Linked DNA regions of Homo sapiens. The protein of the gene in region 4 binds, or shares a complex with, the protein of the main gene of each other region. Each region holds a gene or a part of one and is shown on either strand. Other genes may lie near its edges. The genes, in order: STX5, BNIP1, VAMP7 and STX7.

The links.
Region 1: STX7 (region 4) and STX5 share a complex: the UniProt entries of both Homo sapiens proteins name them as parts of the SNARE complex.
Region 2: STX7 (region 4) and BNIP1 share a complex: the UniProt entries of both Homo sapiens proteins name them as parts of the SNARE complex.
Region 3: STX7 (region 4) and VAMP7 share a complex: the UniProt entries of both Homo sapiens proteins name them as parts of the SNARE complex.

Annotation. Positions count from the first base shown.
Region 1 is NC_000011.10:62,829,035-62,836,698, forward strand, and holds the start of STX5 (syntaxin-5), read right to left. Parts: upstream 3,018-7,664; 5' UTR 2,920-3,017; intron 2,622-2,919; exon of another isoform or gene 2,417-2,621; intron 2,229-2,416; 5' UTR 2,210-2,228; coding exon 1,985-2,209; intron 1-1,984. Other genes in the region: TEX54 (testis-expressed protein 54), read right to left, coding at 3,342-3,716; WDR74 (WD repeat-containing protein 74), read right to left, coding at 3,918-4,097, 4,584-4,640, 4,758-4,903, 5,242-5,297, 5,393-5,493, 6,397-6,498, 6,661-6,807, 6,885-7,002. UniProt on the Homo sapiens protein: Mediates endoplasmic reticulum to Golgi transport.
Region 2 is NC_000005.10:173,140,031-173,147,542, reverse strand, and holds the start of BNIP1 (vesicle transport protein SEC20), read right to left. Parts: upstream 3,013-7,512; 5' UTR 2,998-3,012; coding exon 2,914-2,997; intron 678-2,913; coding exon 585-677; intron 1-584. UniProt on the Homo sapiens protein: As part of a SNARE complex may be involved in endoplasmic reticulum membranes fusion and be required for the maintenance of endoplasmic reticulum organization. Also plays a role in apoptosis.
Region 3 is NC_000023.11:155,933,334-155,940,356, forward strand, and holds part of VAMP7 (vesicle-associated membrane protein 7), read left to right. Parts: intron 1-6,367; coding exon 6,368-6,460; intron 6,461-7,023. UniProt on the Homo sapiens protein: Involved in the targeting and/or fusion of transport vesicles to their target membrane during transport of proteins from the early endosome to the lysosome. Required for heterotypic fusion of late endosomes with lysosomes and homotypic lysosomal fusion.
Region 4 is NC_000006.12:132,447,102-132,454,124, reverse strand, and holds part of STX7 (syntaxin-7), read left to right. Parts: 3' UTR 1-7,023. UniProt on the Homo sapiens protein: May be involved in protein trafficking from the plasma membrane to the early endosome (EE) as well as in homotypic fusion of endocytic organelles. Mediates the endocytic trafficking from early endosomes to late endosomes and lysosomes.

The DNA.
Region 1 (7,664 bases), on a different chromosome or scaffold from region 4:
CCTGGCAACAAAGAGAGACTGTCTCAAAAACAAACAAACAAACAAACAAACAAACAAACACAAACTGCTTACTCGGGTCCCACTGGGATTGTTGAAAAAAACACTCCCGGCTGGGTACGGTGGCTCACGCTTGCAATCCCAGCACTTTGGAAGGCTGAGGCGGGCAGAGCACCTGAGGTCGGGAGTTTGAGACCAGCCTGACCAATATGGAGAAACCCCGTCTCCACTCAAAATACAAAATTAGCCAGGCATGGTGGCGCATGTCTGTAATCCCAGCTACTTGGGAGGCTGAGGCAGGAGAATCACTGGAACCCGGGAGGCGGAGGTTGCAGTGAGCTAAGATCGTGCCACTGCACTACAGCCTGGGCAACAAGAGCGAAATTCCCATCTCAAAAATAAATAAATAAATAAATAAATAAATAGCACTCCCAAATTTTTTTTAAGAGGAGCTGAGTGCAGTGGCTGACACCTGTAATCCCAGCACTTTGAGAAGATAAAGCAGACGGATCACTTGAGCCCAGAAGTTCGAGACCAGCCTGGGCAACATGGTAAAACCCCATCTCTACTAACAAAACAGAAATTAGCCAGATGTGGTGGCACATGCCTATAATCCCAGCTACTGAGGAGCCTGAGGCAGGAGGGTTGCTTGAGCCCAGGAGGTCAGATGTTGCAGTGAGATGAGATAGAACCATTGTACTCCAGCCTTGGTGACAGAGTGAGACCATGTTTCCAAAAAAGGAGAGAGAGAGGCCAGGTGTGGTGACTCATACCTGTAATCCCAGCACTTTGGGAGGCTGAGGAGGGCAGATCACCTCAGGTCAGGAGTTCAAAGCCAGCCTGACATGGTGAAACCCCATCTCTACTAAAAAAAAATACAAAAATTAGCCGGGCGTGGTGACGGGCACCTGTAATCCCAGCTACTCGAGAGGCTAAGGCAGGAGAATCGCTTGAACCCAGGAAGAGGAGGTTGCAGTGAGCCGAGATTGCACCATTGCACCCCAGTCTGGGCGACAAGGCAAAATTCCTTCTCAAAAAAAAAAAAAAAAAAAAAAGAGAGAGAGGAAGAGACTGGGCCTCGCTCAGCCTTCTAAGTAGCTGGGACTACAGGCACATGCCACCACGTCCAGCTTTTTTTTTTTTTTTTCCTGTAGAAACAGGGTCTTGCTTTGTTGCTCCTGCTGGTCTCTAACTCCTGGCCTCAAGTCATCCTCTGGCCTAGGCCTCCCAAAGTGCTGGAATTACAGGTATGAGCCACCACATCCAACCCTAAGTGATTTTGATACAAATTACTGATCTAGGGCCAGGTGTGGTGTCCAGACCAACCTGGGCAACATAGTGAGACACTGCCTGTACGAAAAAATTTTAAAATTAGCTGAGTGGTGCATCCATGTAGTCCCAGCTGCTCAGGAGGCTGAGGAAAGAGGATCCCTTGAGTCTAGGAGTTCAAGACTGCAAGTGAGCTATCATCACACCACTACACTCCAGCCTGTTGACAGAGTTGAAAAACAGATCTCAAAACAAAACAAAAACAACAAATTACTTATCTAGAAAATGTCCTTAATCTTACAGAGATAAAAACTAATATGTAACTAGATTAACTAATTTTCTCATGGTTACAGAGCAAACTTATGGTAGAAGTATATTGGAAAATTCAAGGTGCATGTTTCTCAGCTAAAGGCTCTTCCTAGAACTTGTTCCTTATTCACACCAATTATATTGCAGCCAAGTACTCTCTGAAGTACTCCCTCCAGAATAGCAATCCTGCCCTCCAAAGGATTCCTCACAAAAAAAAGTCTAAGTCCTTGCCCCTAGTTAGCCAGCCGACCTCTTCTCTGTTGCTTATAGCAGACCCTACAGGCCCCATCCAAGCCTATCAGTTCCATCAGGTACCCCCCAAAATTACTTCGGTTAACAGTGGTGGAGCACAGTCCTTCCTAGATTTGAGTAAGGCTCACTCCTCGCCTTTTCCACTCCAGGTCCTTACCTGACGGGTCTGCAGCGACTTGCAGGCAGACAGAAACTCCTGGGTCCGATCCCGGCAGGACATGGTGTCGGGAGGGGGAGGGACGAGGGTCACTGGGGGGGGCAGAGGGGCGATGTCGCTGCTGCTACTGCCAGCAGTTGCAGGGGACAGGACCTGTGTCTTTGAGAGACCCAGGTAGACACCCTGATCCGTGTTCTTAGACCCGTAGCGTTTCCGCGGGATCATTGAGACGCATAACCTCGGACTGTTGTGGAGGGGAGAGTGTCATTCCCCAGGCAACTTCTTTACCCAAACTCCCCCGCCCCACCCCAATCAACAAATCCCCGAGCCCCTTCTGCACTTCTCGTGGACTTTCGCGCCCAGGACGCTCGCAAATCCTGGGGCGGACCAGCAGCGGAAAGGGCCCCGCTTTTCCCCTGTCCCAAGTCGAACCCGCTTCAGACTCTTCTTCCAACTTGGCTCTGGCGGCCAGAGCGCGGGCCGGGGACCCTGAAGCAGAGACAGGGCCAGAGCCAACCCCGTGGTCCTGAGACTCCGGCCCGGCCCGTGTAACTGCCCCGGGCCCTAACCCAGCCCTTTCGTTTCCGCGGTTTCCTTCGGCCCCTCCGGGAGGGCCAGTGACGGACCTCCAAAGACTGACACACTTCGGTGGGCGGAGGGGGAAAACCTCTGGGTGTTTATTTGAAACAGGAAGTCCCACCCCCCGCCCAAGGTCCGCCTTCTGGAAGACTTCAACCACTCATTAGCTAAGGCCGACGTCTCTCTCAACAGAGGCTTTCCTGATTGGACGGCAAGGAATTCGCTCACCCGGAGCCGGGCCGGCAGGACTTGCCCGCTCGCCCCTGATTCCCTTCCCCCCGCCAGTCGTCGCCCCCGTAAAACCACTGCCCCAGAGCTGACACGGCGGCCAGATCCCCTCTTAAAGCGAATCTTACCTCCCCTCTGCCGCCTGCCGCCGCCGCCACTTCCAATCTCACCGGCCGTCACTGCCTCCTCCCCGAGCACTGAAGCCGCCGAAACCCGACCAAAGACTGGAAGCGGCCACGTCACCTACACGTAACCCCACCCCCAGTGACGAGGGGGCGGTCCCACGCGTTTCAAGCCCAGCGACCCGAAAGACACGCCCCACACCCAAACGCAAGAGCGATCCCGCCCTCCCATTGGCTAAGGCGCCACCGTGACCCCGCCCCAGAGTACTACAGCAGGCGCTCAGGGGGCTGGGCCCGCCTCCGGGAAGGAGCCTTAAAGAACCAGCTGCCCGGTGGTGTCCGCGCCCAGTCCCCCAGAGTGGTCGTGCAGGTATACGTTAGAAATTTTATTCTCTGGAGGTTGGGGCGGACTGAGAGCAGGTCTGGGGTCATCCCTTCTCCGGCTCCTCCTGGTTGCCTTCTCGGATCGGACTCTCCTGCTTCCGAATCTGGTCTGGTTGCCTCTTGCTTGGCCGCGAGGAGCCCCGACGACCGAACGTGGATAGTCGCCGCCACAGCACGGTAATCAGAAGGCTTTCGTTCGACTTGTGATTCGGATGGTCCGGGGAGTTCAAGTCGATATCTTCGGCGCCTGAGGGGACGACGAGGCCTCTGAGCTCACCCCTACCCTCGGGAAGCCCCCTCTCACACTCCCTGGGCCCTCTTTGTGTGTCTGTGGTCTCATCTTCCCTGCCGTCCTCAGACTCTTCCTCCTTGGACTGCTCATCAGACATCTCAAAGTCCTTGTCTTGGCAGCAGCCCATGGCCCCGCGTGGCCCTGGACTCCGTGCCACCCACGCCAGCCTGCCTGCCTCCAGGCCCGGCTTTTGTGACATCAGATATCCCGTCGCCCCAGCTCAGGCAGCCCCCACCCCAAGCTACCCCTCATTCCTTTCTCCCATCACAAAAGGCTCAGGGTCATGGTGGGTGTTCAGCAGTTTATTTACAAAGTGGGCACAGGGGCGTCAGGGGCTGGTGGACCCAGGCCGCTTCTTCTTTCTCCGTCTCGTTTGGAGAGCTCCTTGGGGCTGCTCCAAACCCGAGAGCTTCCGCTTGGCAGCTGCCTCCAAGGATGCCCAAAGTTCATCTGTCTCTGTGTCTTCTAGGGGCACCTTGTTGGGTTCTTGAGGCTCTTGGGGCTCATCCTGGTGAGTGGGAAGAAAGCTTAGGAGTCAGGGGGGCCGGGCACGGTGGCTCCCACCTGTAATCTCAGCACTTTGGGAGACCAAGGCAGGAGGATTGCTTGAGCCCAGGACTTAGCGACCAGACTGGGCAACATAAGGAGACCCCATCTCCACAAAAAGAAGTTTAAAAAAAAAAAAAAAAAAAAAAAAAAAGAAAAGTAGTCAGGGGCACAGGGACAAACCCACAGGGAAGGAGACCCTGGCTGAGAAAGAATCCCTCTGGGTACCACCACCTTTATTCCCTGCTCCTAGAAAGCAACCCCATCCATGCTGTTGGCAATAACCCTCTCAGGATTTTAACTGTTAATGCCTCTCAGAGAAATTAAGTGACCAGGCAGGTAAACAGATAGTCCCAAGTCTGCATTCCAGCTGCCTCCTTTTCCTCTCCATAGGGAGGTCCTCACATCTATGCCCTTGGCTCCCACATTCCCGGGCCCAACTGCTCACCTCCCAGTTGTCCCTGCCTGACAAGAGGAGGCAGTTCAATTGAGACTTGAGATAAACCTGCAAAAGATGAGGGACCTTAAGGAGCCAGGCATGCTGAGACAGAAACATGAACGGAGGGCACAGGAGGCGGGGCCTCCACAAGACCATGAGTTGGAGGTGGGAGAGACAACTTACCTTATGCTCCAGACCCCGTGGATTCTGGATCCTGTGTATCCTCAAGACTCTGTCCAAGCCACAGGAGGCTAGTAGAGGCTTTGAAGGGTGGCACTGCAACCCACGCACACTGCCTGCCAGCCCCTTCAGACAGCCCAGTAGACGCCCTAGAGAAGGGGGGAAGCATCCGTGATAACTGGCTGGCCAATAACCAACCATTCATTGTTTCCTGTTCCAATCACTTTCCATTTCAACATTTAATCTGCAACAAAACCCTGAGACTGGAGCTTCTACTAATATTTCCATTTCGCAGGTGAGGAAACTAAGGCACAGGGAGTTGAAATAATTAGTTTAAGGTCATACAGCTTTTAGGGAAACCAGGATTTAAACCCAGGCAATCTGGCACCTGAATGAGGCCTCACTGGCCCCACTGCACCACCTTAGAGGGAATCCTGACCCTTCTCCCTGCTCCTTCCTTTCCCCCAATGTACCCTAGTCCACTCACCTTGCCGAAGGTCAATTTCTGCCAGCTGCCCATGAGTGTTTCCCACAATCACTGAGCTGAGGATGAGACCAGAGGCAAGTGGGATCAGCAGTAACCTCCTGGAGCCCTTCTCAAGCCCCACCCTCCCACCCCTTCCCCTCTAAACACTCACTTGCCTCCCGGAGTGAGGGTCATGGCTGTTAGTGGGTACTCTCCATAGGTGGTCTCTAGGACTGGCCGGCGCTGGGGGGATGCTGGATCATAAACACGGACCTAGAGGAAGGCTGAAGCATCACAAAAGTATCCTCACCCTGCACCTACCCTCTGGCGTCTCTGCATCCTCACCCCCTCCCTGCACACTGCTTTCTTATTTATGATCCACTCCCAGAAACTTTCTCATCTTAGATGTATGCCTCTTCTCTGAGCATCAGGGTGTCAGGAGAGCTGCTTAGCAGCATAAATGGACAGAGCTGAGGGGAGAGGTCCCCTAGGTTGGAAGTGTGTGAGCATTCCATCCCCCCATACTCCCATCTAGGGGAAATGGAGGGACAGAAAAGCAAGTTGGTCTAGTAGTCAGTAGGTGCTAAATTTCAAGCAGGGGTTAGCCTGAATGAAGGAGGAAAGAGGATGCCCTCATATGTGTTTTGAGCAGAGGCATATGACCAAGATCAGACTTCAATGTGCAGAAGCAAAGAAAATAGGACAAATACAGTGACCCAGCCCCGCCCGTGTCTCAAGACCTCAAATGAGACAAACCATAAAGATTCCCCATTCGGGCCCTTCCTGTAAAGCTGAGGAGCTGAGGCCAGAGATGGGAGGCTCAGGCCTGGGTCCCAAAGCAAATCAGAGAGGCTGCATCAGGACCAGAACCCAGTTCTCTTAACACCCAGCCCAATGTCCTCTGACACCTGCACCCTATAATTCCCACAGTGAAGGGGATCCACTCTCCTTTCCTCTCTTCCAGGTGGGAGGAAAACAGGCATAGTTCAGGAAACTCCACCCTAGAATACAGTAGAGGAAGGTCATGGGCTCAGGGACAGGGTTGGAACAGACGGGGAAGCGCTTGCTCCTCTGAACTCAGAATGGTGAGAAGAGCAGTTGTGTCAAACCGTGGGGGCCATTTCTCCAGGAGGCTGCTTTATCCCAGGAGAAGGCAGGTGTGAGGTGACACCTTACCTGGTGGTACCCTGTGCAGGTGACAAGCTTCTGTGATCCTGGGAGAAACTGTATGTCCTGGTCCCAGATGGGAACCCGCAAGTCCAGCCAGTCATTCCGCACCTGGTGGGGTGGGCAGATGGAGGACAGGGCTATGGGGGGCTCGATGTGCCCCTGTTTTCAGCCCTCCTTCGCCCCCTAAGTCCATCTAGTCTCTAATGCATCGTCAGTGGCCTCAGCCTCCCTCGACTTCAGGAACAGCTCCTTCACACTCTTGTCACTCACGTTCTTGGCCCTGAACACAGGTTCCTCAGAGCCCTGCAGGTCCCATATCTTCAAAGCATTCTCTTTCCCACCTGTGGCAACCACATGGGGGTGTGCTGGGTCTTGGCGCATCCTACACACCCCAGGGCCCACTCTCAGTTCCAGGAGCTGTAAAGAATAGGAGATAAGAGTCCGTTCCAGAGTCCTTAATCCTCCCTTCCCCAGCGTGATCATTAGGCACCTACCCCAGCCCACCTCCCCCAACCATCAGGGCAGGGGAGCCTCACTGGGTCAGAGGATGTGTCCTTGTCCTTGTCATGCCAGACTCTGAGAATCCCAGAATCCACACATGTGATGAGGGTGCTGCAGAGAAAGGATAGAGTTGGGATTTTTTAAGTGCTTAAACTCCTTGTTCTAATCTTTCTCTCCTCCTTACTACTACAGTTGACTAATGTTTAAAGAAAAAAAAAAGTATAAAAGTATTCTCTAGGCCCCAAACTCATATCAACCAGATTCCCTACTAACAGTCCAGTTTAGAAGGAAGCCTCTAGGTCACTGGGCTCTAGGCAGGGCTTGACAGCTTCCAGCTTCCTAATCTGTTAATTCAACTTTCTCAACAGGGTGAGGGTTTACCAAGTGAGGAAATAGAAGCGCTGAGAAACTAATTTGCCACTCAGCTATGTTACAACCACAGCTAGAAATCAACTCTGTGATATTCCAGAGTGCTTTTGCTGTTCACAGCTATGTCTAGCATCTGGCTGTACTGGTCTGTCTGAATCTTGAGTTGCTTACTAGGGCTGGTCTGAATTTAGGGCTTGGTCAAAGTCAAACACCAACTTCTTGGGTTCCTTGCTCTGAGTTTCAGGCACTAAATGTCAGTCTCTTGCTTAAAATATCCCTCCCGAGAAGTCCAAGCAAGTCTCTCCCCAGGATCTGCACAGCCTGCGCCTATGTTCTTTCTCACACCTGCCAACCCTCCCTAGCTGGGTTCGGGCTCTGTATCGACTTGCCTGACCTGTGGCAAA
Region 2 (7,512 bases), on a different chromosome or scaffold from region 4:
GAAAGAATGGCAGAGAAGAGAAAGTATTTGAAGTGGCCCCAGGATTTCAAAAATTCCAAGGATAATGGTGTTCCTGCCATTCACTCGTTCACACAGCTGGCAGTGTTCTGCATGCAAAAGTTTCTTGTTTTTTTTTTTGAGACAGAGTCTCGCTCTGTCGCCCAGGCTGGAGTGCAGTGGCTCGATCTCGGCTCACTGCAAGCTCCGCCTCCTGGGTTCACGCCATTCTCCTGCCTCAGCCTCCTGAGTAGCTGGGACTACAGGCACCTGCCACCATGCCCGACTAATTTTTTGTATTTTTAGTAGAGACGGGCTTCACCGTGTTAGCCAGGATGATCTCGATCTCCTGACCTCGTGATCTCCCCGCCTCGGCCTCCCAAAGTGCTGGGATTACAGGCGTGAGCCACCGTGCCCGGCCAAAAGTTTCTCGTTTTTACCTGGAGAGCAGGTTAGTACAGAGTCACCCTCCCTGTCTAAGTGTTTACTGCTCCCATCAGCTGGTGTTTGAAGAACCCAGACGGCTCTCAAGCAGAGGATATACCCAGGACAGAGCCCCCTTCATTGACTGAATTGAGAATACCCACCTGTATTCTGTGACGCAACTGTTGAAATTTCTCTTTTACTTTAGTATTCAGTTCAGTAAGAGCACTTAAGGGTCCTGAACAATCACGGATATCCTAGGAGACATTGAACAGATGAAAGGCCTTTCTCAAGGCAATGAAATGAAATGACACCATCCATACAGTGATAGAGTTGGTTTAGACCAACTAATATTAACATACTAACTATAATTCATCCTGATCTTTGCTGTTTACCTCTGCAACACAAGCAAAAACATTATCATTTACATTTTTCTCATTCCTTTTTAGATTAATGTTGAATTAATATAAAAGCCTAGAAAGAAACACAACTGCTTTGACCTAATTTTTAGTGCCTAAATTTTAACAAAACATTACCTGGCCAGTAGGAAACAGCTTAAAACAGCTTGTATGCCCAACAAGAATGGACATGCAAAAGTGATACTATCACTTTAGAACCTTAGATCCTTCCAACTTGGAAGATCAGGATGTTTAAATATCTGGCATCATATGATGAGATTAACTTCTCCAGTGTGATTTTACAAACCATTAGTGATAAGTTAGAGTGTTTATATAGACATGTTTAAGGGCAGATTTAGAATCTGTTGCTGGACATTCAGAATTACTGGTGCCAGCTTTCACGGCAGGCTCTGGAGACAGACCAGGTGGATTCGAATCCTGGCTGTAGCAACTTATGAGCTGTGTAAAGTTACCTGGAAAGTTATTTAAATTCTCTGTGTCTGAGTTTCCTTATCACAACACTACTTACCTCATAGAACATCATAGATTATGTATGTATGTAAAGCACTTAGCAGAGCTGCTGGAAAACGGTAAGAACGCAATACATCCAGCTATAATCAGTCTTTCTCATCAGCAATGACAAGAACCCAAATGTTAGAAAGAGTACAGAAGAATGCCTAAGCAATTTAGATTATGTGAAAATGTAATTTCATTTGTATGAAACCTGTTTATTTTTCTATAATTGGCCCAGAAGTTTTGTAATGTATACATCAGAGAAGTGAAGTTCAAGAAGTTTTAAATATCTGCATCAAATTTCACTTTTTCTCTGGCTTATTCATTTAATCACACTTCTTTGCACCGTATTTGTTTATTCTGCATCTAATTTGGTTTATTCTGCATCTGGTTTATCTGGGGAGCCCTATTTTCCTGCACTTTTTGCCACACCTTGTTACAAACTCTGAGTCTACATCTAATGTTTAGTGACTTTGTTGAAAATGATTATTTTTAAAAACCAAGGTTTAGGCCGGGCGCGGTGGCTCACGCCTGTAATCCCAGCAATTTGGGAGGCCGAGGCGGGCGGATCACGAGGTCAGGAGATCGAGACCATCCTGGCTAACACGGTGAAACCCCGTCTCTACTAAGCAAAACACAAAAATTAGCCGGGCGTGGTGGCGGGTGCCTGTAGTCCCAGCTACTCAGGAGGCTGAGGCAGGAGAATGGCGGGAACCCGGGAGGCGGAGCTTGCCGCGAGTCGAGATCGCGCCACTGCACTCCAGCCTGGGCGACAGAGCGAGACTCCGTCTCAAAAAAACAAAAACAAACAAGCAAAAACAAGGTTTAAAACTCGGTTTCTTTTTGCTGAACTCATGGAACCGTGTCTACACTCCCAATTCTTGCCTAAGTCCACTCGTTTATTTTACCTCTACCCTTAAATGGCTTAAGGCGAAACACTTCATTTCCTATCTGTTCAAACGGGGTAACACTCTAAGGTGTTATTCCTAGGTTGACTTTCACAGTCCAGGTCCCAGTTTTGCCACTGACCCAGGTATGCCTTCTAACCTAGGCCTTGGCGCCGTACTCGATTTCCTCAAGCATAAAATCACAACTACGGTCCAGGTTACATTCGTTTCACCCGGTGCCTCCCGTGCCAGGTGGCCTTGGATGCCAGGAGAGCTGGCCAGCAGGGGGCGGGGCTAGCTGCCTCCCGGACGCTACCAGAGGATGCTGAAGCAGCGTCAGAGGGCGGGGCCAAGCAGGGTGACAGGTAGGTTGTGAGGTAGTCAGGGGCGGGGCGACGACCAGGGCTGCAGGTGGAAGGGGCAAAGCCGAGCCCCGAAGCAGTAGCTGAGTCAGGGGCGGAGAACAGTGGGGTGCTCTGGGGATGGGAGATCCGGCGGCACCCGGAAAAAGGATCAAGGCCAGCAGTCACCGGGACACAACCAAATGGGGACCGGGGGGGTAGCCGACCATGGGGCGGAGCCTGTGGTCTGGGAAACCAAGTGGGGAAAGTTCGGGAGTGACACTGCCAAGCTCACAGACCAGCAGAGCTTGGGTTAGGGCTGCTGGAGCCCGGCAGGGGTCCCGGGATCAGTACCTGAATAAGCGCCTTCACCTCCAGGTCAAATTTGACAATCTCTTGGTTACAGATCCGGACGTGGACGTCTTGGGGAGCCGCCATGTTGGGGACGCCGGCTACGGGCAGCGGCAGGACCCAAGTTCAAACGCGTTTTCGCACCACCTTCTTTCCCTCCCCACCCAGTCTCGGGGCAGCGCCCCCTAGAGACCGGCGAAAATGGCAAGCGAGGGTCACTGCGCAGAGTTGGGACTTTCCCTGACACGTGTAGGGAAATCAGCCTCTCCTCTTGGTATGGCCCTAATAACATGGAGAGGAAGGGAAGAGGGAATATCAAGAACGCTTCACAGTGGTCTCTTTCCATCTTCCTTCTGTCAGGCATTCTAATAACTATATATTTTTTACATAGAAAAAAAAAGACTGGAAGAAAAGTATCAATTGAGATGTCTCTGGAAAGTACCAGTAATAATTTTTTGTTTCTTCAAACTTTCTTATATTTTTAATATTTTCTACAGTGAGTATAAATTGTGGAGTAAAAGAGGAAATGATAAACGTCATATATTTTTTAAAGTATGGAGTTCAAGGCAGGTCGGTAGAGTACCTCCTATCACTCCAACACATGATCTAAGGGATCTTTGTAAAACACGAAATTGATCAAGTCACCTACCTGTATGCAGCCCTTCTATGGCTTCTCGTGTTTCCCTTTTGTATACAACTGGATTTATTAAATCTACCTTGCTAAGGTAGTTTTGATGGAAATGTCAGAGCAAACCCTCAACAAATGGTGGCTCTTTTATTTTTGTTAGTAAATAATCCAAGTTTCTTAGCTGGTCCTCAAGGCCATCAGCCACCCCGGCCATCAGCCACCGCACCCTGCGCCCTTCCTGGATTGCTCAAGCTCCTTCTGGATGTGTAGCCTTAGAATGTGGTGTTCCCTCTCCCTAGAAAGCGTTTCCCCCACTCGACCCCACTCCATCTGCATTTGTTCGGGTCACTTCAGCAAGCATAGATTGTGAGGACCTAAAGGCTTAGGACTTGAATGTTCATCTCTCTCTCTTTTTTTTTTTTTTTTTTTGTGGCGGAGTCTCGCTCTGTTGCCCAGGCTGGAGTGCAATGGCACAATCTTGGCTCACTGCAAACTCTACCTCCCAGGTTCAAGCAATTCTCCTGCCTCAGCCTCCTGAGTAGCTGGGATTACAGGTGCGTGCCACCATGCCCAGCTAATTTTTGTATTTTTCATAGACACGGGGTTCACCATATTGGTCAGGTTGGTCTCGAACTGACCTCGTGATCCACCCGCCTCGGCCTCCCAAAGTGCTGGGATTACAGGCGTGAGCCACTGTGCCCGACCATGTTCATCTCTCTTAATCCTCACAACCACCCTTGAAATTGTACTACACTATTATCACAGATCAGGAGTAGGGCTTAGAGTAAATTAAAACAAAAAACAATCAACCCTGTTGCAAGATTACCTATCTTGAAAGTGGCAAAGCCTAGGCCGGGCACGGTGGCTCATGCCTGTAATCCCAGCACTTTGGGAGGCCGAGGCGGGTGGATCACGAGGTCAAGAGATCGAGATCATCCTGGCTAACACGGTGAAACCCCGTCTCTACTAAAAATATAAAAATTAGCCGGGCGTGGTGGCGGACGCCTGTAGTCCCCGCTACTTGGGAGGCTGAGGCAGGAGAATGATGTGAACCCAGGAGGTGGAGCTTGCAGTGAGCCGAGATCGCCCCACTGTACTACTCCAGCCTGGGCGACAGAGCAAGACTCCATCTCAAAAAAAAAAAAAAAAAAAGAAAAAAGAAAGAAAGAAAGTGGCACAGCCTCTACTGAAAGCCATCTTTTCCCCAAAAAATCAATATGGTCCCCACCTGTTGTAAGCGGGGCTATGTGCTTGTCTGTGTCCCTACAGCCCTCTACACACCCTCTCGTAAGGTATTCATCACCCCACTGCACCTAATAGAGAGGCAGTGTATCACAGGCTTGGCATCTGCCTGGGCTCAAATCCTGTCCACCACACACTTCGCATGCCTGTGCCTCTGTCTCCTCGGAAGCTAACTGGTGATAATCAATTGCGCCTACTTCACAGGTTGGAGAATTAAATGAGAAAATACATGAAAAGCACCAAGCACAGTGTGCTAATGTGGCATATAGTAAGATCTCAATGCCCGTTAGCTGCTGTTATTCTACTACTAGCCCACATTTTGGGAGCACTTCCTATGTGCCAGGAACTTTGTACTAAGCGCTTCATGTGTGTCTCGCTTAACTCTTACAACAACTCTGTGAGGTAAAAACGGGGCAGAGAGGAATAATGACTTGCCCAGAGCAAATGGAGTTGCTAGGTCAAAGGATATATGCATTTAAAAATTCTGACATATTACCAAATTGCTCTTCATAGGGATTATGTCAATCCATACTCCCTCCAGCAACATGGCATAAATGCCTGTTTCCCGTGGCCTTGTCAACAGGATAGGTTAACAAACATTGGAAGTTTTGCCAATCTGATTAGGTAGAAATGCCTTCTTTAGTTTATGCTTTTCTGATCATGAAGGAGGCTGAGAAACTCTACCTATGCTTCAGAGCTATTTGCATTTATTCTATTGTCTGCTCATTGTTCTATTGGGTTGTTGGTTTTTTTCATATCCGTTTCCAGGAACTCTATATATTAGGAGGATTAGTCCTTAGAGATGAGTTTCAAAGCTTTTCTATTTTCATTTTTTTTTAAAGACATCTACAGCCTTAAAAAGTCTATAGAACTTTGATTTAGCTTATGGTTTTTGTTAATCTTGTTTTACATTGAATTTATCAATCTTCGTTTATGATTCCTGGATTCGTGGTCCAAATTACAGGGATTTAAAGGGATTGCCCACATTTCCTTGTAGTGTTTTTATGGGTGGTTTTTTGTAGCTTTTTTTTTTTTTTACACTTAGATCATTATCTATTTTGAAATATATGTTGGCTTATGGTGTGAGATATAGACCCAATTTTACTTTTTCCGGAGGTTACTTAGTTATTCCAATACTATTTAATGAAGAGTCTACCTTTTGCTCACTGGTTCTGGATGCCACATTTGCCATACTAAATTGTCGTATATGTTTGAGTCTACTTTTAGACCTTCTATTCTGCTTGACTGGCCTATTCATGTATCAAAATTAGTTTTAACTATTATGGTTTTATAACGACTTTTAGTATCTGCTAGGATTAAATAACTCTTCCCCTTGTCCCCTGCATCACTGCCCCCTCAGCCCCACTGCCTACCAGCATCTTCCAGCTATTTTATCCCTGTGTAAACTTTTTTTTTAAACCCTCTTGGTATGTTTTCTTAGGATGACATTTTTTAGCAATATTATATTTTTAATTTAACTTACCACTGTTAGTTCTATGTCACTGCTCCTGTGTAAGAACTTGGTGTATCTTTCAATTTATTCCAGTTTCCTTCTGTGTCCTTCACAGTACTTTCAAAGTTTTCTTTATCCTAGGCCTTGTATACATTTTCTGTTAAGTTTATTCCTGGTAATATTTTCAGGTTAAAACCTTTTAAAGAAACTGAGGTTTACTTTCTTCAGGTCACTCCAGTGTTTTGGATACTCACATAGAAGCCCCCTGTTTAGGACAGCAGAGAAGCCCCAAAGCCAGCAGCTGGCAGACCTGCAGACGTGCCCTTGGGACCCCGTTCACATCATGCTTCTTGTTGAATATTCATATGCAATCAACAGTCCCCAGTTGCATCTCTTATGCTGCAGCTAAAGAAGAAAACATAAGCTCCCTTTTTCTCTACCCTCCAATATACTTCCTTCCAATAAGGGGACCCAATCCTAAACCTTAAGCTAGAGGCCATCTTCGAGGAACAGATGTGCAGTCTGGTGATCATTACACGCAATCACTGATTCCTCTCAACTCTGTTTTGCTTCCCCTATCACCTTTACCCACTGATCCTTAGACTAGCTTTTGTTTATCTGCTAGGTTTTGGCTTTCTTTTTGGTTTTTAGATTCTAAGGCCTTTATCCCCCGCTACAGAGACATCCTTCCAAATATTGCCTGTGACTTGACCTGATCCCAAAGAGATGAATACAAATTATTTCTGTAGTGCAGCAAGCCGACTGGAGTTGAATTGGAGCTCTATAATCATATAAGGTAGGTCTGGGGCTAGTCTCCTCATCTGAGTCTTGTCTCCTGTAAAATGAACATGACCACCAGCCTCATTGGGCGCTTGAGAGTAGCAGCTGAGTTTCCTGTAACAAAAAAGCACCTAGCAGAGTCTTAAGGAATGCCACTCCCTCCCCTAGGGCTTTCTAACACCTTCTTCCTGCTCTGAACCTTTTAGCTGGGATATTATAGCATTTCCCAGCCATTTTCTTTCTTTCAAATTCTCCACTGTACTGTGGCTAAACAGCTCACCAGCTGAATGACCCAGCTAACTGGATGCTATCCACAGGTTTAGTTTCCTAAGGACTATACTGGTCTGGCTCACCCAGCCCTTTAACAGTCTCAAGATCTTGACAGAGGATCCTGTGAGCAGTGGTCTTTAGAGATCAAGTCCTGATGCAGAACCAGTCCATGGGAGGCCATGCCCCTCCCCTTTGCTTCCTGATGGCCTTAATGTCACTCACATGAAAC
Region 3 (7,023 bases), on a different chromosome or scaffold from region 4:
GGACTTTTTTTGGTTGGTAAGCTATTAATTATTGCCTCAATTTCAGAGCCTGTTATTGGTCTATTCAGAGATTCAACTTCTTCCTGGTTTAGTCTTGGGAGGGTGTATGTGTCAAGGAATTTATCCATTTCTTCTAGATTTTCTAGTTTATTTGTGTAGAGGTGTTTGTAGTATTCTCTGATGGTAGTTTGTATTTCTGTGGGATCGGTGGTGATATCCCCTTTTATCATTTTTTATTGCGTCTATTTGATTCTTCTCTCTTTTCTTCTTTATTAGTCTTGCTAGCAGTCTATCAATTTTGTTGATCTTTTCAAAAAACCAGCTCCTGGATTCATTGATTTCTTGAAGGGTTTTTTGTGTCTCTATCTCGTTCAGTTCTGCTCTGAGTTATTTCTTGCCTTCTGCTAGCTTTTGAATGTGTTTGCTCTTGTTCCTCTAGTTCTTTTAATTGTGATGTTAGGGTGTCAATTTTATATCTTTCCTGCTTCCTTTTGTGGGCATTTAGTGCTATAAATTTCCCTCTACACACTGCTTTAAATGTGTCCCAGAGATTCTGGTATGTTGTGTCTTTGTTCTCATTGGTTTCAAAGAACATGTTTATTTCTGCATTCATTTCGTTATGTACCCAGTAGTCATTCAGGAGCAGGTTGTTCAGTCTCCATGTAGCTGAGCAGTTTTGAGTGAGTTTCTTAATCTTGAGTTCTAATTTGATTTCACTGTGGTCTGAGAGACAGTTTGTTATAATTTCTGTTCTTTTACATTTGCTGAGGAGTGCTTTACTTCCAACTATGTGGTCAATTTTGGAATAAGTGCGATGTGGTGCTGAGAAGAATGTATATTCTGTTGATTTGGGGTGGAGAGTTCTGTAGATGTCTGTTAGGTCCGCTTGGTGCAGAGCTGAGTTCAATTCCTGGATATCCTTGTTAACTTTCTGTCTCATTGATCTGTCTAATGTTGACAGTGGGGTGTTAAAGTCTCCCTTTATTATTGTATGGGAGTCTAAGTCTCTTTGTAGGTCTCTAAGGACTTGCTTTATGAATCTGGGTCCTCCTGTATTGGGTGCATAAATATTTAGGATAGTTAGCTCTTCTTGTTGAATTGATCCCTTTACCATTATGTAATGGCCTTCTTTGTCTCTTTTGATCCTTGCTAGTTTAAAGTCTGTTTTATCAGAGACTAGGATTGCAACCCCTGCCTTTTTTTGTTTTCCATTTGCTTGGTAGATCTTCCTGCATCCCTTTATTTTGAGCCTATGTGTGTCTCTGCACATGAGATGGATTTCCTGAATACAGCACACTGATGGGTCTTTACTCTTTATCTAATTTGCCAGTCTGTGTCTTTTAATTGGAGCATTTAGCCCATTTACATTTAAGGTTGATACTGTTATGTGTGAATTTGATCCTGTCATTATGATGCTAGCTGGTTATTTTGCTCGTTAGTTGATGCAGTTTCTTCCTAGCCTTGATGGTCTTTACAATTTGGCATGTTTTTCCAGTGGCTGGTATGTGTTGTTCCTTTCCATGTTTAGTGCTTCCTTCAGGAGCTCTTGTAAGGCAGGCCTGGTGGTGACAAAATCTCTCAGCATTTGCTTGTCTGTAAAGGATTTTATTTTTCCTTCACCTATGAAGCTTAGTTTGGCTGGATATGAAATTCTGGGTTGAAAATTCTTTTCTTTAAGAATTTTGGATATTGGCCCCCACTCTCTTCTGGCTTGTAGAGTTTCTGCCGAGAGATCAGCTGTTAGTCTGATGGGCTTCCCTTTGTGGGTAACCCGACCTTTCTCTCTGGCTGCCCTTAACATTTTTTCCTTCATTTCAACTTTGGTGATCTGACAATTATGTGTCTCGGAGTTGCTCTTCTCGAGGAGTATCTTTGTGGCGTTCTCTGTATTTCCTGAATTTGAATGTTGGCCTGCCTTGCTAGGTTGGGGAAGTTCTCCTGGCTAATATCCTGCAGAGTGTTTTCCAACTTGGTTCCATTCTCCCCATCACTTTCAGGTACACCAATCAGACGTAGATTTGGTCTTTTCACATAGTCCCATATTTCTTGGAGGCTTTTTTCGTTTCTTTTTATTCTTTTTTCTCTAAACTTCTCTTCTCGCTTCATTTCATTCATTTGGTCTTCAATCACGGATACCCTTTCTTCCAGTTGTTCGAATCGGCTACTGAAGTTTGTGCATTCGTCACTTAGTTCTCGTGCCATGGTTTTCAGCTCCATCAGGTCATTTAAGGACTTGTCTACATTGGTTATTCTAGTTAGCCATTCATCTAATCTTTTTTTCAAGGTTTTTAGCTTCTTTGTGCTGGGTTCAAACTTCCTCCTTTAGCTCAGAGAAGTTTGATCATCTGAAGCCTTCTTTTCTCAACTCGTCAAAGTCATTCTCTGTCTACCTTTGTTCTGTTGCTGGTGAGGAGCTGCGTTCCTTTGGAGGAGGAGAGGCGCTCTGATTTTTAGAATTTTCAGTTTTTCTGCTGTTTTTTTCCCTATCTTTGTGGTTTTATCTACCTTTGGTCTTTGATGATGGTGACATACAGATGGGGTTTTTGTGTGGATGTCCTTTCTGTTTGTTAGTTTTCCTTCTAACAGTCAGGACCCTCAGCTGCAGGTCTGTTGGAGTTTGTCGGAGGGCCACTCCAGACCCTGTTTGCCTGGGTATCAGCAGCGGAGGCTGCAGAACAGTGAATATTGCTGAACACCAAATGTTGCTCTCTGATCGTTCCTCTGGAGGTTTTGTCTCAGAGGGGTACCCGCCGTGTGAGGTGTCAGTCTGCCTCTACTGGGGGGTACCTCCCAGTTAGGCTGCTTGGGGGTCAGGGACCCACTTGAGGAGGCAGTCTGTCTGTTCTCAGATCTCAAACTCTGTCCTGGGAGAACCACTACTCTCTTCAAAGCTGTCAGACAGGGACATTTAAGTTTGCAGAGGTTTCTGCTGCCTTTTGTTCAGCTATGCCCTGCCCCCAGAGGTGGAGTCTACAGAGGCAGGCAGGCCTCCTTGAGCTGTGGTGGGCTCCACCCAGTTCGAGCTTCCCGGCAGCTTTGTTTACCTACTCAAGCCTCAGCAATGGCGGGCGCCTCTCCTCCAGCCTCGCTGCCACCTTGCAGTTCAATCTCAGACTGCTGTGCTAGCAATGAGTGAGGCTCCGTGGGTGTGGGACCCTCTGAGCCAGGCGCGGGATATAATCTCCTGGTGTGCTGTTTGCTAAGACCGTTGGAAAAGCGCAGTATTAGGGTGGGAGTGATCCGATTTTCCAGGTGCCATCTGTCACAGCTTCCCTTGGCTAGGAAAGGGAATTCCCTGACCCCTTGTGCTTCCCGGGTGAGGCGATGTCTCGCCCTGCTTCGGCTCACGCTCGGTGGGCTGCACCCACTGTCCAACAAGCCCCAGTGAGATGAAGCCGGTATCTCAGTTGGAAATGCAGAAATCATCCGTCTTGTGCGTTGCTCACGCTGGGGGCTGTAGACTGGAGCTGTTCCTATTTGGCCATCTTGGAACAGGAATCAAAGGAAATTTTTTAAAAATCCCATTTATGATAGCATCAAAAAGAGTACAATAGTTAGGAATAAATTTAACCAAGGATGTAATAATGTGCACACTGAAAATTATAAAACATTGATGAAAGAAATTCAAGAAGACACAAATCAATGGAAAGATACCTTATGTTTATGGATTGGAAGAATCAATATTATTAAAATGTTCATACTGCCTGAAGCAATACACAGATTCAACACAATCCCTATTGAAATTCCAATGGCATTTTTCACAGAATAGAAAAAAAAATTCTAAAATGTGGATGAAACTAGAAGACATTATATTAAGTGAAATATACTAGACACAGATAGATAAATACTGTATGATTTCACTTATATATGGAATCTAAAAAAAATGTTCAGTTCATAAAAGCAGAGAGTAAAACAGTGGTTGACAGTGGGTGGGAGACCTGGAGAGATGTTGGTCAAAGTGTATGAACTTACAGTTGTAAGATGAATAAGTTCTGGATACCGGACATACAGCATGGCAACTATAGTTAATAATAATGTATTGAATATTTGAAATATGCTATAAGAATAGATCTTAAGCATTCTCACCACATACCCAAAAAAGTAACTATGTGAGGTGATGGATATTTTACTTAGCTTGATTGTGGTAATAATTTCACAATGTGTACATTTATCAGAATATCACATTGTATACCTTGAATATATACCATTTTTATTTGCCAATTATACTTCAAGGCAGAAAAAAATAAAATTAGAGTAGAAACAAAAGCTTGGAGGTCTGAAATGTTACTAAAAGTGTAACATTTTCCTTTTTTCAATATTCTTGCCACATGGTGGGTAGGTCCTTTTAGTCTGAAGATTCAAGTCTGTCTTATTTGGGGGATATTTTCTTCAATTAGTCCCTTGATTATTGATCCTTCTCTTTTGGCTGTATTCTCTCCTGTGACTGCTAATAGGTGTGTAAATCAGTACCAGGCACATAATAAGCACATGTTAAATATCTGTTGATCGTATAAATTGATCCTGGATTTGCTTGATCAGTTTTCCGTGTATCTTACATCTTCTTTCATGATTTACAACCTAGACATTTTGCTGTTTTCAGAACAAATTTTTTGAATTGTTACTGCAGAAGCTGCTTTTGCTCATTTATGTTCTGCTTTTAAAAAATTATGCCATTTTATTAAAATATAGTTTTTGGAATGTTGTCATGTTATCTAATTTTTTATGTCCTCTGATGACTTTGTTTAAAATTAGTTCAATTATGTCTTGTATCTGAGGATACTTATTAGAAATTTTTTTATTACTGTTATTCTATCTTGTTTCCCATATTAACTTTGTTCCATTAAGGACTGTTTGTCCCCATTGCTTTTTTTGTCTCCTCACTTTAACTGCTGTTTCTTCTCAAAAGTTCTAGTCAATGCATATATTCTATTCAACATATATATTTAGCTCTAGATGTAATCAGTTTTGGTATGTGCCTCCAGGTGGCATCCTGTGCAGTCTTCATGAAGTGAAACCCAAAGACTGGTGCCCCTGTCAGTTGTTCTACTGCAGAGACTTTGTGGAGTATGTGGTTGGAGATGAATCTATGGTTAAGGGAGTGGATTTTTTAAAACCAATATGTGAAGTATAATATACATAAAGTGCATCAACTGTAAGCATACAACTTGTTGTGTTTTCACAAAGTAAACATACCATGTAGAACCAACACCCAGATTAAGAACTAGAGCACGAACAGTACCCCAGAAGCTCCCTTCTCCCTTCTTTTAGTCACTACTCTTCTCCAAAGGTGGCCACTGTCCTGATTTCTCCACATAGATTAATAAAACATAGCAGGGGCCGAGAGTGGTGGCACACACCTATAGTCCCAGCTACTCAGGAGGCTGAGGTGGGAGGATCGTTTGAGCCCAGGAGGTCAAAGCTGCAGTGAGTCGTAATTGTGCCACTGCACTCCAGCTTGGGCGACAGAGCAAGACCCTGTCTCAAGATAAATAATAAAATATAGCAGGTATTCTGTTTATGTCAAGTTTCTATTGCTCAAAATGATGTTTGTGAGATTCATCTGTGGTAAATTGTATAAATGTAGTAGTAGATTGTGAATTGTCATTACTGTATTGTATTCCATGTTATGACTCTCCTGTAATTTATGCATTGCACAGTTGATGGGCATTTGGGTGGTTTCCAGTTTAAGGTATGAAAAGTAGTGCTGTCCAAAACATTTTTTTATATGTCTTTTGGTGAATTTGCATACATCTGTGGGACCATACCAGAGTGGATTGCTGGATTATTAGGGAGTTTTGTTGGTTGGTTGTTTGCCATTTTGTTTTAAACTCCTTGTGTCCTGGTGGGAATTGTTCAGTAGATACTGAGAAATTGATGATGCAAAAGAAAATGGATAGCAGAAGGAATGAAGTTCTATGGGTTTTGGCCCTCACAAAAGTAAATACATATCTTCCTACAGAAATCAAACAGGTTTTTATGGCTCAAAGCCCCGGAATTATACGGGGCAGAATAGGCGAATGTGCTTGCAGTCAGCTGGCTTTAAAAGAGCCTTTCTTATTGGAAGTATAGAGAGGAAAATTCTTTTCCACTAGCGGGAAGAACCACTTCTGGTGCTCAACATCATGTGCATTGCTGCAGTGGAGAAGAAAAAAGAGGGAAGCGTTTTCATTGGGCTCATACTGCTTATGATAGGCCTGGCAGAGTCTTGCTTTTGGCAACTATTGAGTATGAATGGCCAGTCTCTACTTGTAAAGAGAGGTCATTGGACTTAAATGGAATTAATGGAAGTAAAATGTTCTCAGGTTGTTACTGCAAATCATTCATGTAGTCAGTGCCAGGGGTTAAACAATTCTCGCCTCTTTTCTAGTCTGTCACCTTCAAAACTACCAGCAGAAATCTTGCTCGAGCCATGTGTATGAAGAACCTCAAGCTCACTATTATCATCATCATCGTATCAATTGTAAGTTTTTGTCCTTTTAGTGTATGGCTTTATTTTTCAATCTCTAAGAAATTAGGTACTAGAATTATTTCTCAATGATTAACACTCTGAAATGAGCTACATATGTCTTTTAATAGTGAAACACATGACCAGGCAGTGGCTTTCCTATGAAGTCACTATGAAATATCTCTACTTAAACCCCTCCTTCCTATTGAGAATTATTATATATTCTCAATAGGAAGAGATCTATAAAACTGACCTCACAGAAATGTAGTTATTTTAAATAAAGACATTTCTGGTTTATATGTAATGGGTTTATTGTTTTTATTTTTAAATTAATTATGTATTTTTAAAGTTTTAATTTCTAATATGGCAAATGCTGATAATTATAATCCCCCTTAAACAAGAACTCTTTGGAGTCCTCAGTAATTTTTGAGTGTGTAAAGAGGTCCTAAACCACAACTTTAAAAACTATTGCTAACAGGTGGGGGGTGCTTTACCCTGTTCATGGTCAGATAAAGTTGCCTTTCCTCCCCATCCTCCAGTCATGTCCAGAAGCCCAAAGTTACCTCCAAGCAGATAAC
Region 4 (7,023 bases):
ATTATGTGTATCAAGTCTATTGACAGGTACTTTTTAGTGTGAATAGAATCCCATAGTATAGATGTACCACAGTTTGTTTAACTGTTCACCTGCTGAGAGACATTGGGCCAGTTTTTGGCTACTATAAATAAAGTTGCTATAAACATTTGTGTACAAGTTTTTGTGTGAACATAATCTAGTTTTCTGGGTCAAATGCCCAGCAGTTATATAGTAGTTGGGTCATATAGTAGTTGAATGTTTAGTTTTTAAGAAATTGCCAAACTTATACCAAGTAGCTGTACTATTTTATATACCCACCAGTGGTGTATGAGTGATCTAGTTGCTTCATGTCCTTTTCAGCATTTGGTGGTGTCTCTTTTTTATTTTAGTCATTCTGATAAGTGTATAGTGACAGCTCATTGCAGTTTTGATTTACCATTTTCCCTTCGCTAATGGCAATGATGTTGAGCATCTTTGTTTCATATGCTTATTTGCCACCTGTATCTCTTCTTTAGTGACATGTTTCTTCATGTCTTTTCTAATTGGATTTTTTTTCTGTTGAGTTTTGAGGGCTTTTAAATAATGTGTGTGTGTGCCTCTGTGTGTGTGTGTGTGTATTTTTTTCTAGATACTAGTCCTTTGTTGGATGTGTGATTTGCAAATATTTCCTCCCAGTCAGTAGCATGTCTTTTCATTTCTCTTTTCTGGGCCTTTCACAGAGCAGAAGTGTTTAATTTTGATGAAGTCCACTCTATCCATTTTTCTTTTTATGGATCATGCTTCTGGTATCAAGAACTTTGCCTCTCTCCTTAGATCCCCCAAATTTTCTCTTTTATGTTGTTTTCTAAAAGTATTATAGTTTACGTTTTACTTTTAAGTCTATATTCCATTTTCAGTTAATTTTGTATAAAATGTGAGACTTAGGTCTGGGTTCATTTTTTTTGTTGTTGCCTATGGATATTCAATTACTCCAACATGATATTTGTCGAAAAGGCTCTTTTTTGTCCATTGAATTGTTTTTGCACCTCTGTCAAAAATCAGTTGAGCAAAAATGAGTTAATGAGAAATCAGTTGGGCACATTCGTGTGGGTCTATATCTGGGTTTTCTATTCTTTTCCATTAGACTATGTGTCTATACCTCCACCAACACCAAAATCTTGATTACTGTAGTAAGTCTTGAAATCAAATAGGCTGGTTTATTCCACTTTCTTTTTCAAAATTGTTTTAGCCACTTAGTTCCTTTGTCTTCCCGTATAAACTTTGGAATAATCTTGTCTGTATCTATTCAAATATCTTACTGGGATTTTGACAGGAACTATGTTATACCTATACATCAATTTGGGGAGATTTGACATCTTTACCATGTTAAGCCTTCCCGATCATGATCACAGGATCACTTCACTTCATTTCAGTTAAATTTTGTTTTCCTTCATCAGTATTGTGTGGTTTTCAGCATACAAGGTCTGTACATGTTTTGTTAGATTTATACCTAAGCAATTTAATTTTTGAGAGAGATTGTAAATGGCATTGTATTTTGAATTTCCTGTTCACATGTCTATTCTAAGTACATAGAAATAAAGTGAATTTTTCTATTTTGTATACTGAGACCTTATTGAGCCCACTTACTCATTTTAGGGGATTTTGATTGATTCCTTGGGATTTTTTTTTTATATAGATAGTCATGTCATCTGCAAATAATGAATAGTTTTATCTCTTCATTTCTGACCTATATTCCTTTTTTTTTTCCTTTCAGTCCCTTAATGCAGTGGGTAGAAATTCCAGCAGAAATAAAAGCAGTGAGAGTAGAGATCCTTGGCTTGTTTCTGGTCTTAGGCAGAAAGGATTCAGTGTTTCACCATGAAGTATAATGTTAGCTGTAGGTTTTTAAAGTAGATGCTCTTGCTAAAGTTAAGGAAGTTATCTTTTATTCCTTTTTTTCTGCAAGTTTTTATTATGAATTTTATGTTGAATTTTGTCAAATGCTTTTTCTGCCTTAATTTACATAATGCCATTTTTCTTCTTTAGCCCATTCATGTGGTAGATACATTGATTGATTTTTGAATGTTGAGCCATTGTTACATCCCTGAGATAAACTCCACTTGGTCGTGGTGTATCTTTGTATATATAGCTTAATTCTTTTGGCTAATATTTTGTTAAGGATTTTTGCATCTGTTTTAATGCGACATACTGGTTGGTGGTATCAGGGTAATACTAGCTTCAAAATGAACTGGAAAGTATTCCTTTCTCTTCTGTTTTCTAAAGCGGATTGTATAGAATTGGTGTCAGCGCTTTTTAAAACATTTGATAGAACTTTCCAATGAAATCATCTGGGCCTGGAGATTTTGGGGGAGGGAGTTCTTTTTATTGTAATTTCCACTTTTACAATAGTTATATGGCTGTTTAATTTATCTATTTCATATTGAGTTGTGACAGTTTGTATTTTTAGATGAATTAGTCCATTTCATCTAAGCTCTCAGATTTATATGTAGAGTTTTTGGTTGTATTTTTTGTTAGACTTTTGATGTCTGATATTCCAAAACTCCTTCATTTATCATTTCCTTTCTGTTTAGAGCACTCCTTTAGCCTTATTATTATTATTGTAGTTCCATTGGCAACAAATTCTCTCAGTTTTCTTTCATCTGAAAATGTCTTGATTTTCCCTTGATATCTGAAGAATATTTACATTAGACATAGACTTGTAGGTTTATAGTTCTTTTCTTTCAGCACTTGAAAATTGTTCTGCCACTTCCAGCCAAGAGGGGTGGCTCACGCCTGTAAGCCCAGCACTTTGGGAAGCCAAGGCGGGCAGATCACTTGAGGTCAGGAGTTTGAGACCAGCCTGGCTAACATGGCGAAACCCCGCCTCTACTAAAAATACAAAAATTAGCCGGCATGGTGGTGCACATCTGTAATCCCAGCCATTTGGGAAGCTGAGGCAGGAGAATCACTTGAACCCGTAGGCGGAGATTACAGTGAGCTGAGATCGCACCACTGTACTCCAGTCTGAGCAACAGAACGAGACTCCTTGTCAAAAAAAAAAAAAAGGAAAGAAAATTTCATGGTTCCCCATGAGAAATCCAGTTTTTTAAATTGTTTTGGTCCCTATAGATAGGTGTCATTTGTCTTTTTTCTTTTTCTTTTTTTCCTTTGTGTTTAGTTTTTAGTTGTTTAACCATGATGTATCTTGTAGATTTGGGGGGTTTATTATATTTGAGGTCTTCTCACCATCTATATGTTTATGTCTTTTGCCAATTTTGGGGAGTTTTCAGCTGTCATTTTTTTCAAGAACTTTTTCAGTCTTCCTTCTTTCTTCTTTCTTTTGAGACTCTGATGACACAAATGTTAGATTTATTGTAGTTCCGTAAGTCCCTGAGGTTCTGTTCATCTTTGTTCTGCCTGTTTTCTTCTGTTGTTCAGACTGTGTAATTTCTATCATTTTATCTTCAGATTTATTCATTCTTTCTGCAGTAGCTTCCATTCTGCTATTGAGCCTATCAATTAAGTGTTTCATATTGATTCCTGCATTTTTCAATTTTAAAATTTCTGGCCCTTTACCGAAAATGTTGGTTGACCCCTGGAGTATAAACCTATACTATAGAAGAGAGTATCAATTTTTTTTTTTTTGAGAGGATCAATTTAAACAAAAGTTGGTCTCTTTAAATAAATAAAGTACACATAACTTGGTGAAACCGATTTGGAAAAAAACAGAAGACATAAAAAATTTAGGAATGAAAGTACAGATAAATAACCAAACATAGATTTTAAAATAATAAGACACTATAAACAACTTTATGCCAATATATCACAAAACAGAAAATGAATAATTTATATGAAAAATGCAAATTACCAAAATCAACTACGAAGTAGATGATTTCTGCTTCCTGCCATATGGTTGACTAGGTATACTCAAGGATCCTCCTGCTAAAATACAGTTAGTTCTTGGATAAAATACAACACACATAATATTAGTTCATTTCCTGGCTCATTAGAAAGAAAGATAATCACTAAAGGCTATTACCAATGAGAGTGGGCTAAAATTAAAGTAGTTGAGAAACAGGAAAACTGTGCCTCTGAGACTTAAGCCATGGACTCCAGGCAAAGTAAAGAAAGTGAACCTAAGATTCCTTCATAAAACCAGGAATGCTTTAAAGCATTAAAGTAGTCCTAAGTCAGTGGACTCTGGTGGTTACTCTAAGAAGTGGATGAAAATCCCCTCCGAAGGAAAGCCTCCCTAATTAATGCTTCTAGATTAATCAAACATGCAAGGAAACACACCATTTGCATTGAGAAACAGTAGATTTAGATATTCAAGGAATTCAGGTATTGCAATTAGCAGAAGTAGAATAACAGTTATATGTTTAAATAATGTATGAATTAAAACGAACATGAAATGAGAGATGTGTTAAAAGGCAGATATTAAAAAGAACCAAAGACAACTTAGGTATGAAATTTAATTATTGAAATATATAACATAATGAATGGTTTAAGAGCAGATTCACCACAACTAAAGGAATTGTTGACTATCAAGTTTTAACTGAGGAAACAACATATTGCAGCAAAAACAGGTAAAGGGATAGAAAATAAGAATTAGAGATTATGAGACCTGAAGGATAGAATGGGAAGGTTTAATATGTGCTGATTGGAGTCTAAGAAGTAAAAAATAGAAAAAAATTGAGGTAATTGCTGACAAATTTCCAGAGCTAAGAAAAGCCTGGGACCTGGTATGGTGGCTTATGCCTGTAATCACAGCATTTTGGGAGGCCAAAGCAGAAGGATCACTTGAAGCCAGGAGTTTGAGATCAACCTGGGAAATGAAGCAAGAGCCCCCACTCCATCTCTACAAAAAAAATTAAGAATTAGCCAGATGTGGTGACATGAACCAGTAGTCCCAGCTACTTGGGAGGCTCAAGTGGGAGGATCACTTGAGCCCAAGAGTTTAAGACCAGCCTGAGCAACATGGTGAAACTCCATCTGTACAAAAAATACAAAAATTAGCCAGGCATGGTGGCACACACCTGTGGTCCCAGCTACTCAAGAGGCTGAGGAGGGAGGATCACACGAGCCCAGGAGTTCAAGGCTGCAGTGAGCTATGATGGTGCCACTGTACCCTGTCTAAAAAAAAAAAAAGTGGATCCACATATACAAGAAGCAAAATGTATATCAACCAGGAAAAGGAAGCCAATGTATATTCATTATACTCAAACTTCAGAACAATAAAGGCAAAGATATCTTAAAAGCAGCCAGAATAACTTATCCACTTTTAAAGGAATAACGAATTGACAGACCTTTTTTTTTTTTTTTTTTTTTTGAGACAGAGTCTTGCTCTGTCACCCATGATGGAGTGCAGTGGTGTGATTTCTGCTCACTGCAACCTCCATTTCCCGGGTTCAATTGATTCTCCTGCCTCAGCCTCCCGAGTAGCTGGGAGTACAGGTGTGCGCCACCACAACCTGGCTAATTTTTTTGTATTTTTAGTAAAGACGTGATTTTGCCATGTTGGCCAGGCTGTTCTCGAACTCCTGACTTCAGGTGATCTACCTGCCTTGGCCTCCCAAAATGCTGGGATTAGAGGCATGAGCCACTGCACCTGGCCAACAGTAGACTTTTCAGTGCCAAAACTGGAAGGCAAAAGACAGTGGAATAACATCATTAAGGTACTGAGAGAATAACTCAATAGAATGAGTGCCCAGTGAAATTATCTTTCAAAATCAAGGGTATATTAAAAACACTTTTTTCTCAAAATGAGAATTTACAAACAAGGGACTTTCACTTAAGAATAAAGATGAATTTTAGAGTACAGCAAAATGACTAGGAGGAAAGTCTGAGATGCAAGAAGGTATGGTGAGCTAAAAAATCAGTAATCATGGGAAATGTAAATAAATACTGTCTATATTAAGAAGTATTTACTCTGTGGAGTAAAAAAGAGCGTAATTAAAATACTAGCAACATTTTACATAACTCAGGAAATGTATATGTGGGGAAAGTGTCCGGGAGCACTTAGAAGTTAGTGTGAGTGCTCCAAGATCCTGATACTCTTTAGGATGGAAGTTAAGATAATGAATGACTTTAGATGTTGTTAATCTAAGTACTTAACAGAAAATTTTCAGATAACCTTTAAAGAATAGCAATACAATATAACTTTCAAACCAGTAGAGAGGAAACATTCTGAAATAAGGGAAAAACACTTTAGAAATCCCAACTTTGATAGACCACAAAAATGCAAGAAGGAAGAAAAAGCATAGAAAAAGCAAAGAAATGGCATAGTATATAATAAATGGTTACAATAAATATAAATTGCCTATCTCACCAGATTAATAAAAAAAAAAGTCTACCTTGTTCAATATATACAGTTTACAAAAGACAGTACAAGGACAGAGAAAGACAAAAAGTAGAATTAGGGAAAATAAAACAAGCAAATATACCTGGTTAGGATAGCTGTATCAGTATTAGCCTTACAAATATTAAAGTGAAAAGCATTAATAAGGATAAGGAGACTCTCAAAAATAATAAAAATTTCAACTGAAGTAGGTATAACAGTTCTAAACAAAGTTATTAAAGTAAAAATGTAGAGGGCAAAACGGAAAAAAAAACTATTATGTTGTATTTGAAGTCACTCAATTTTTAGCTCGAGCAGCAAAAAAGTAAATAGAACAACATGGTAACCAAAGTTGATTCAATTAATACATAAAGGATCATGTTCCCCCAATTTAGAGCATGTGCATATTTCTTAAGCATGTATAAAAGATTTAGAAGGAAAATGATAAAGGAATGTTTTGGGGACCTCTGATAGGGAAAGATTTCTTAGAAAATCTGCAAAAGATATTAACCATAATCTACATAAAGTCAACTGTTTTATTTCAAGCCTCTCTGGAAATAGTTTTGTTGACTGATAAGAAACGCTCTATGTCAGTCAGCTAATCAATGTCTAGTGAGTCTAACTCTTTCCACTACACAGTAAGTTCCATCTTAGGGTGTTTTACTTAAAAGCCTGGTGTCAAATGTTACACGCACAAAAACTTATTAGTATCTTTTTAACCAATGTAT